Linked DNA regions of Homo sapiens. The protein of the gene in region 2 purifies or fractionates together with the protein of the main gene of each other region. This does not show direct contact. Each region holds a gene or a part of one and is shown on either strand. Other genes may lie near its edges.

The links.
Region 1: the proteins of FIBIN (region 2) and TRHDE purify together in Homo sapiens (affinity purification with mass spectrometry; one large-scale study listed by BioGRID and IntAct). This does not show direct contact.

Annotation. Positions count from the first base shown.
Region 1 is NC_000012.12:72,618,274-72,621,931, reverse strand, and holds part of TRHDE (thyrotropin-releasing hormone-degrading ectoenzyme), read right to left. Parts: intron 3,042-3,658; coding exon 2,894-3,041; intron 825-2,893; coding exon 727-824; intron 289-726; coding exon 181-288; intron 1-180. UniProt on the Homo sapiens protein: Specific inactivation of TRH after its release.
Region 2 is NC_000011.10:26,992,506-26,996,263, reverse strand, and holds the start of FIBIN (fin bud initiation factor homolog precursor), read right to left. Parts: upstream 2,153-3,758; 5' UTR 1,738-2,152; coding exon 1,102-1,737; 3' UTR 1-1,101.

The DNA.
Region 1 (3,658 bases), on a different chromosome or scaffold from region 2:
TACCTGTATTGTGACTTTCACACTATTGCCTTGGAAGCTGTGAACCTGACACAAAATGTTGCTGCATGCTTTTGTTTTTCCTTATCTTGTTTTTCTCCAGTTGGTAAATGAAATGCATCCACTGAGACTCTGAAAGCACTATTAAATAATATCAGAAATACAGGATTTGGCTCAGTTTACCTGTTCCTGTTGCTGGAAATCCAATCTGAAATAAGTGTTGATGCCTGTTGGTGACAGTGCTTGTTGCCAAAACTGCAGGCCAGCATTATAACTTCTCTACGTAGTTCTCTAGATATCATCAAAAGGGAAACAAATTAAAAAGAAAGTTAGGGAAATTCATTCCCTAAATAGTAGATAAGTAAATTATTAACATAAAAATGGTTTTTAGATCTGGAAATCCTATGCTGCTGAGTAAAAGTCACTTAGGCAGAGTGGAAGTTAAACATACTAAAAGTTTAACAGTACTCCAGTGAGAGGCATGGGTTCTGATCTCAATATCACCAATAAAGGTAGATCTTAAATTAAAACACAGCAAGGAAACGTCTTTGTTCTCAGGATCAGGCAATGGAAACTGTGCTACCCAGCAGCAGTCCTCTCGGGAAAGTGAAATGTAAGATGAAGAATGAAAGGAAGATTGTCTCATGCAGCTAAAGTCACAATGGCACTAGTAGTACATTATTATACAGCTCTAGGGGTAAAGAAGAGGATAAGAAAATAAAACAGTACTCATGTTGGTAGGATGCTTGAACAAGAGATCCATTAAAATTATTTTTCGGCCACCCAAGCTTGATATATGTTGTTGCAACTTGCTTTAAAATATATTCCTAAATGGGGTATAGAATAAATAAAGATAAGGTCAGTTTAAAACTTCTGTATGCTGACAATTAAAATTCTGTAATAAAATTAAAATATTCTTAAAATGTACCTACTTTCAAATATCCATAAAATTATAAGTACAGTAATGTTCTATTATAATTTTATTTAATTTAGTATTTCATATATAGAAAAGAGGGATAAAATGCTATTGGAATGGTACAAGTCTACTCTTCCTATTAAATCACTAAGTAATTTGCATGAGTAAATATTTTAGATGATGACTTTTGTAACAAAATGAGGAAAACAAAGAATATTGATAACACCTATGCGTACATATGTACAAATGTATATAGATATACTATATGAAAATGGACATCTAATATTTACGCATTTTATATCAACAAGGCATATTTAATGCAAAACTACTATGTTGGCCCAACCAATGGCCTAGTATTGATGAAGCTGAGATACACAGAACTCTTCAGTGTAATTATAATGATATTTCAAAGTCAACAATTCATTCAGCTAATGACACATTTAAGTGTCAGTATCAAGGTAAGGCATGCTCTCCCTCACTATTTTTTGTTTTTTTAGACAGGGTCTCCACTCTGTTGCTCAGGCTGGAGTACAGTGGCAACAACCACGGCTCACTGCATCCTCCGCCTCTCAGATTCAAGCCATCCTCCCACCTCAGCCTCATGAGCAGCTGGGAATACAGGCACAAGCCACTACACCCAGTTAATTTTTGTATTTCTTTTTTTTTTTTTTTTTTTTTTTGTAGAGATGGGTTTCACCATGTTGCCCAGGTTGGCTCTCCCTCACTTTAATGTGCTTCTTGAATTTTGCCAAGGAATACAAACAATGAAATTACAATAAAAATGATTCTTAACTGTTTACTGAAAACAAGGAATCTGACATGATACGCTATTCTAATGTACAAATATATTCAAAAATATATTTTACTTTTACAAAGGTTTAATATTGCAGTGTCTTTGTGTTAGGGAGAAATTAATGTGTAATCTTTCTCTAGCAAGTAAAAAATTGTATCATAACTGTAATGACCCATTTGTTTGCATGTCTGTTCTAAGGGCTTAGACAAAACTAACAATGAACGTAATTATTCCCATTTTTTAAAAAAAATCATTAAACAGTTTATTTTCTGTAGGTTTAAAGTAAAAATAAAAAGGAAGGAATTCTGATGGGCATCAGAAATCAGATGGCTCCAATAAAAAGATTCATGTCACAGGAATCCACTTTTCAGTAATCCCAAATGTGTATGTTAATTAGTACAGTATAAAAAATAAGATAATTTTATAAAACACAGGGCAGGCTCTTACGCTAACTAAAGGAAAACAAATAGTGTTCAAACATCATGGAAGGCACAGTGATAAGAAATTTAAGAATCAAAAGGCTCATGAGCAGTACTTAATCCTAATATTATTGAAAATGATTATTAAATCAGATTAGGTGGCATGAGCAGTGTAATTTTGGTTTACTAGGTTTTGAGTTCAGAAAATCTGGTCAGGTAACATTTTGGAATGTTTGTCATGTCTTCTTGTCTCTTTGGATTGTCTGTTGTTTGCTTTCCTGTATCCCCTTGGACCCAATTACGAATGGGCTTTTGCCTCAATGTTGATCTTATCCTTGTTAATTAAGGCAGTGAATTGAATTCAGTATGCCCTTTTGGATAAAAATAATGACTAAGAATCATTACTGAAAATGCCTATATTCTGTTAAGATCTTTGGGATCTTTCTACCCAGGTTAAGTCCTTTGTGAACACAGAGCCCTCTAACTCTTGGAAAGTAAGTTTGAACTTTAAAAATTTGCCATGTATATTTCTTCTTAAATTCTGAAGCATTTAAGCTTAATTGACACTTTTAGGTCAGCATTTTGTATTAAATTTCTTCTTCAAATAATTGTCATCTGTGTTGCATAGACAATCAGGACAAAAATCGGGATAACACAAACTAGAAGAACAAACTAAAATAACTTGGCATCAGTTGCATATATAATAGTAGAAAGAGAATAAAATAGTGTATCTTCTAAAAATTAGAAAGAAAAATTATATCTTTTTACATTGAAAATGTTGTAGTTTTCCATGCGGTCCAGTAATTTATCTAGAGGATAAAGAGCTCGGCTGGCAGCATGCCAAGGAAGAAAATCCTTCTCCTCAGACAGGTATCTGATAATCTCCAGAGGAATATTCTGAGGCAAATAGCCAGCCCTACAGTTAAAAAAAAAAAAAGATACATGATGATGCACAAACGAAGATTTTTACTTACGCAAATAAAAGACGGAAAAGCAAAATTCATCATAGTATAAAGAAAGCATATTCAGTGTTATAAGAATAAAATTACTCACTTTTAAAATATAGTCATACTTAGGATGCCAGTGCCACCTTAATATATGCAGAGTTGGACAGTTAAAAATTTACGAATACAAAAACATCAGAACGCATATTTTTTTAAAAGTAAGGAATTATGGAACATAAGCAAAACCGAGCCTAGGTATGTTCCTTCACAGAAACTCTTCAGAGGTTAACAAGCAATTGAAAATAATTGATCACTGAAATGTAATTTCAGTTTCTCCATGTATTGTCTTTACTTGTCATTTAGCTCAGGGTAATGATATTTAATACACATTGTTCTTTAAAAGATCAACAAATTAAAGTGTCAATTTGTAGTTCTGAGTGTTTGTTAGATTACAATATTAGCATGTTTTTCAAACCTTTTTTTAAAGTTGCTTTCCATAACACCGATAAAAATCTGAGTTAGGTTTTAATAAAGTCCAAATTACAAAAATGTTAAAAGAATAACTCTTTTTTTCTATTATTTTCCTTTC
Region 2 (3,758 bases):
GCCAAATATGTAGCTATTCCTCTGCCTTCTTTATCATATACTCTAAGTAAACTGGCTTAAATCCAGTCCTTCTCTCTCCTTTTGCATTGGCCCCTTTTAGAAATATGAAAGTTACAGATGTAAATTACAAAGTAAGCCAGTATTACATGAAAACATGTTTATTGCCTGAATAATAAAACTTAGCTAAGGAGTTATTAGAATTAGGATTCCCCCTACTTGAAGTACAAGTTTCCAATAAACAGACAGACAGAAGCAAAACCCCAAATGAGAAAGAATACATTGGTAACCTAAATCATAGGCATTTGTGGGTATGTTCATACAATCTACCTATTTCTTTGTAATTTACTATAGCACTGATGACAAAGCATAGACATACAATGAGAAAGAGCAAATCAGCATATCAGTGTGACTGTGCAACCACTACAAAGCTTGGCCTTCTTAAATGTGGCCACTTTAACTTACACACACCCACAGAGGCATCAGAAATCTCCCTGCAAACACGATTTGCCTATAGTTTTGTGGCAATACTGTTACATAGAACAAAAACAACTCTCAGACCATGGTTAATAAATAAGAGAGAAAAGAAGTAAGAAACAACTTCCATGGGTTGGCAGGCATGCAAAGCAGCACCTTGAACCTCATTTGAAAAACAGGCAACTGGGATAGCTTTTGGAGCCCAGGAGTGAAGGCTAGAGGCTGAAAGGAGCTATGCACTATTATCTTTGGGTATTTCCACATAATCTGCAGGATGGGGAAGTTTAATTCCGCACCACATAAACTGTGCTCTTTTAGATGTGGCTGAAACGGGTGTCTCTGCAGAATTAGAAACCCATCTAGAAATGACATTGCTTAAAATTGTTCTTTCCAGGTGACAATTCCATAACAATCACATAAATAATGTACAAAAACAAAACTAAAAACAAAGTCACTCAAGTGTCCAATTTTTCTCTTTTGAAAGATGACCTTAGATGTATTCTCAAAGTGCAAATCGGGATATAAAAAAATAGTAGGTATGGGGGAAATGTAGCCCCATCTTCTGTCCCCCACCCTCCAAAACGGGGCTGATTTGATTCCCTCTTTCTAGCATTTGTATCCTTCCACCTATACTTTAAGATAATCATTTTTCAGCCGACCTAGTCGGGTCCCATGGCTCCTAATGGTGAGGGCCAGCAGCTCGTATTTGTCCCTGAGCCCCACAGAGATGTCCAGTGTCTCCTTCAGCAGGGACCTGGTGTGGACCAGCATTCCCAGAAAGTCCTCGTTGAGCCTGCTCTCCTGCCGGCTGTCCTGTTCCTGGCCCTGCTTGAACTTGCTCTCCAGCTCAGTGAGGGATTTGTCCGAGTTGGAGTAGGCATCCCCGATCTGGTGGGACTCCCGCCGCAGGTACTTGCCATAGCTCTCTTCCCCGTCTAGGTCGTAGGAGATGCTTTTGCTGATGCCCTCCAGCACGCGCCCAGCATCCTCCACCTGGCGGCCCAGCACGGTGAACTCCTCCCGCAGGGTGAGGCTCAGCAGGCTGCCAACCTGGCTCCCCTCCCCCTGGGAGCAGCGCCTGTGGTCACTCACCCTGAAGAGCAGCTGGCACTTCTCGGGGTCATCGTTCTCCTCATAGTCCCCATCGGGCACGAAGTAGTGGTGCAGAGTCCCATTGGACATCTCTGGGTAGAGGGGGCCATCGAAGTAGCCTTGACACAGGTGGCAGAAGAAACTCATGCAGAAGAACTTCAGAAACACCATTCTGGATATTCAGGATGGCCAGGGACCCCAGGAGGAGACTTTTTACCCAGGCACAAGGAAGGGAGTGTCTTTGCGAGTCAGCGTCTCCCTGAGACAGCGTCCGCCTCAGTCCCAGCTGGCTTGCTGCTCCCTGGCCCCCAGTCCCCAGCAGGCTTCATGTGGCTCTGCACACCAGCGTCTGGGTAGCGCGCCCGCCGCAGCGCAGGATGCACCCACCCTTGCGCCCCTCGCTCGGTGACTGGAACTCCTCCGGCACAGGCGTAGCGGGGAACCCCTCCTCCGGGGCCCTGGCAAGATGCTGGCTCTGTTGCCCTCCTCTCGGAGTTTCCCCTTGCTCCCGGGAGATGGAGTGTGTAGCTGGAGAGAAAGGCTCTTGCCCCCTGATAGTATTTCAATTTCTGGACTGGGTGGGAATGCGGAGCTTTTCCTTTGGCTAAAGATATCCTGAGGATCTCTCTGCTCTCAAATTACAGCTGGTTTCGTCACTTGGAAGCCAGGGAACAAGTTTGGAAAAGAACCTCTCACCAGGTCTCCACTATTAAAGGTACAGGGTCGCTTTTTAAAGGTTGGAAGGGAAGACTCTACAATAGAATTTAGCTCGAAAGAGAAAATGAGAAGAGAATAAATGGAATTTCCACCACAAAAACCCTGGTTTGTTATTGACATATTGGGAGGGGGAAGGAATGATTACCCTGGAAAAATGCCATTTCACGTGTCTCAATAAATATCAGGTTGGATTTTCTGAGTATATCTATTTTTATCTTTAAAACTTTGTGACTTTGAAGGCAAATTTAAAGTGTCAGAAATTACAGTTTTGTTTGAAAATGATTGGTTAATTAAAATTTATATCAACAATACTTTGGATGAAATGAAAATACAGAAAGTTGCTTAATGTATAGTCTTTAGTATGTATAAGAACAGAAGCAGAAAAATGAAATTTTGCCAGCTTAGTGAGTTAAAGGACAATGAGATCCTTATTTAATTTTATGAAACAATGCTAAGCATCTGCATTGAATCTTGAACCTAATGCTTTTATAGTTGTTGCCTCTTTTGAGAGTCTTGAAAGCTTTTGAAGAATGTTTCTGGTACTATTATGCCCATTTTCCAGATGGAGAAATGAAGGAGCAGAATGTTAAGCAAATTGATTATAGTCACACAGTTAGACTTTAGTTGAGCCAGAACTAATTGTCACAAGGTCTTTTAATTTAACTTGGGGGGAGAAAAACAATGTTTTTTTTTTTTTTTTTAACCTGGCCATTTTAATTTCTAATTTATGAACTTATTGGCAAATGGCCATCCTAAAGGCCATTCATTTGTTTAATGAATATTTCTTGAGCATTTACTGCATGCCAAAATCTATTTGAGGTAGTGGGAATACAGCTGTGAACAAAAATAAAGACAAATCCTTGCCTTCCTGGCACTTATATTTTGGGAAATAGAAAACTTAAATTTTTGAAAATAGGTCAGGCGTGGTGGCTCACGTCTGTAATTCCAGCACTTTGGGAGGCAGAGGTGGGTGGATCACTTGAGGTCAGAAGTTCGAGACCAGCCTGACCAACATGGTGAAACTCCATCTCTACTGAAAATACAAAAAAAAAAAAAAAAAATAGCTGGACATGGTGGTGCATGCCTGTAATCCCAGTTACTCAGGGGGCTAAGACAGGAGTATTGCTTGAATCCAGGAGAGGGAGGTTGCTGTGAGCCTAGATCGCACCACTGCAGTCCAGCCTGGGTGACAGAGTAAGACCTTTTCTCAAAAAAAGAAAAATATGTAAATAAATAAGATGTAAGTTGGACATCAATAGGGCTGTGGAAGAAAAGAAACAGAGGAAGCATGGGAAAGCAGAAGCAGGCAGCACTCCTGTTTCTATGGGTATTTTCTCCTTCTTCCTTGAAATGTAACTGAAACATTCATGTTGACTTGCCAGTGTTCCATACCTATCTCCCTCCCCAAGTAATAAGGGACTGGCTTCATTCAGACTCACAGTGCCACACTGTTCTGGGACAGTTATACTCATTGT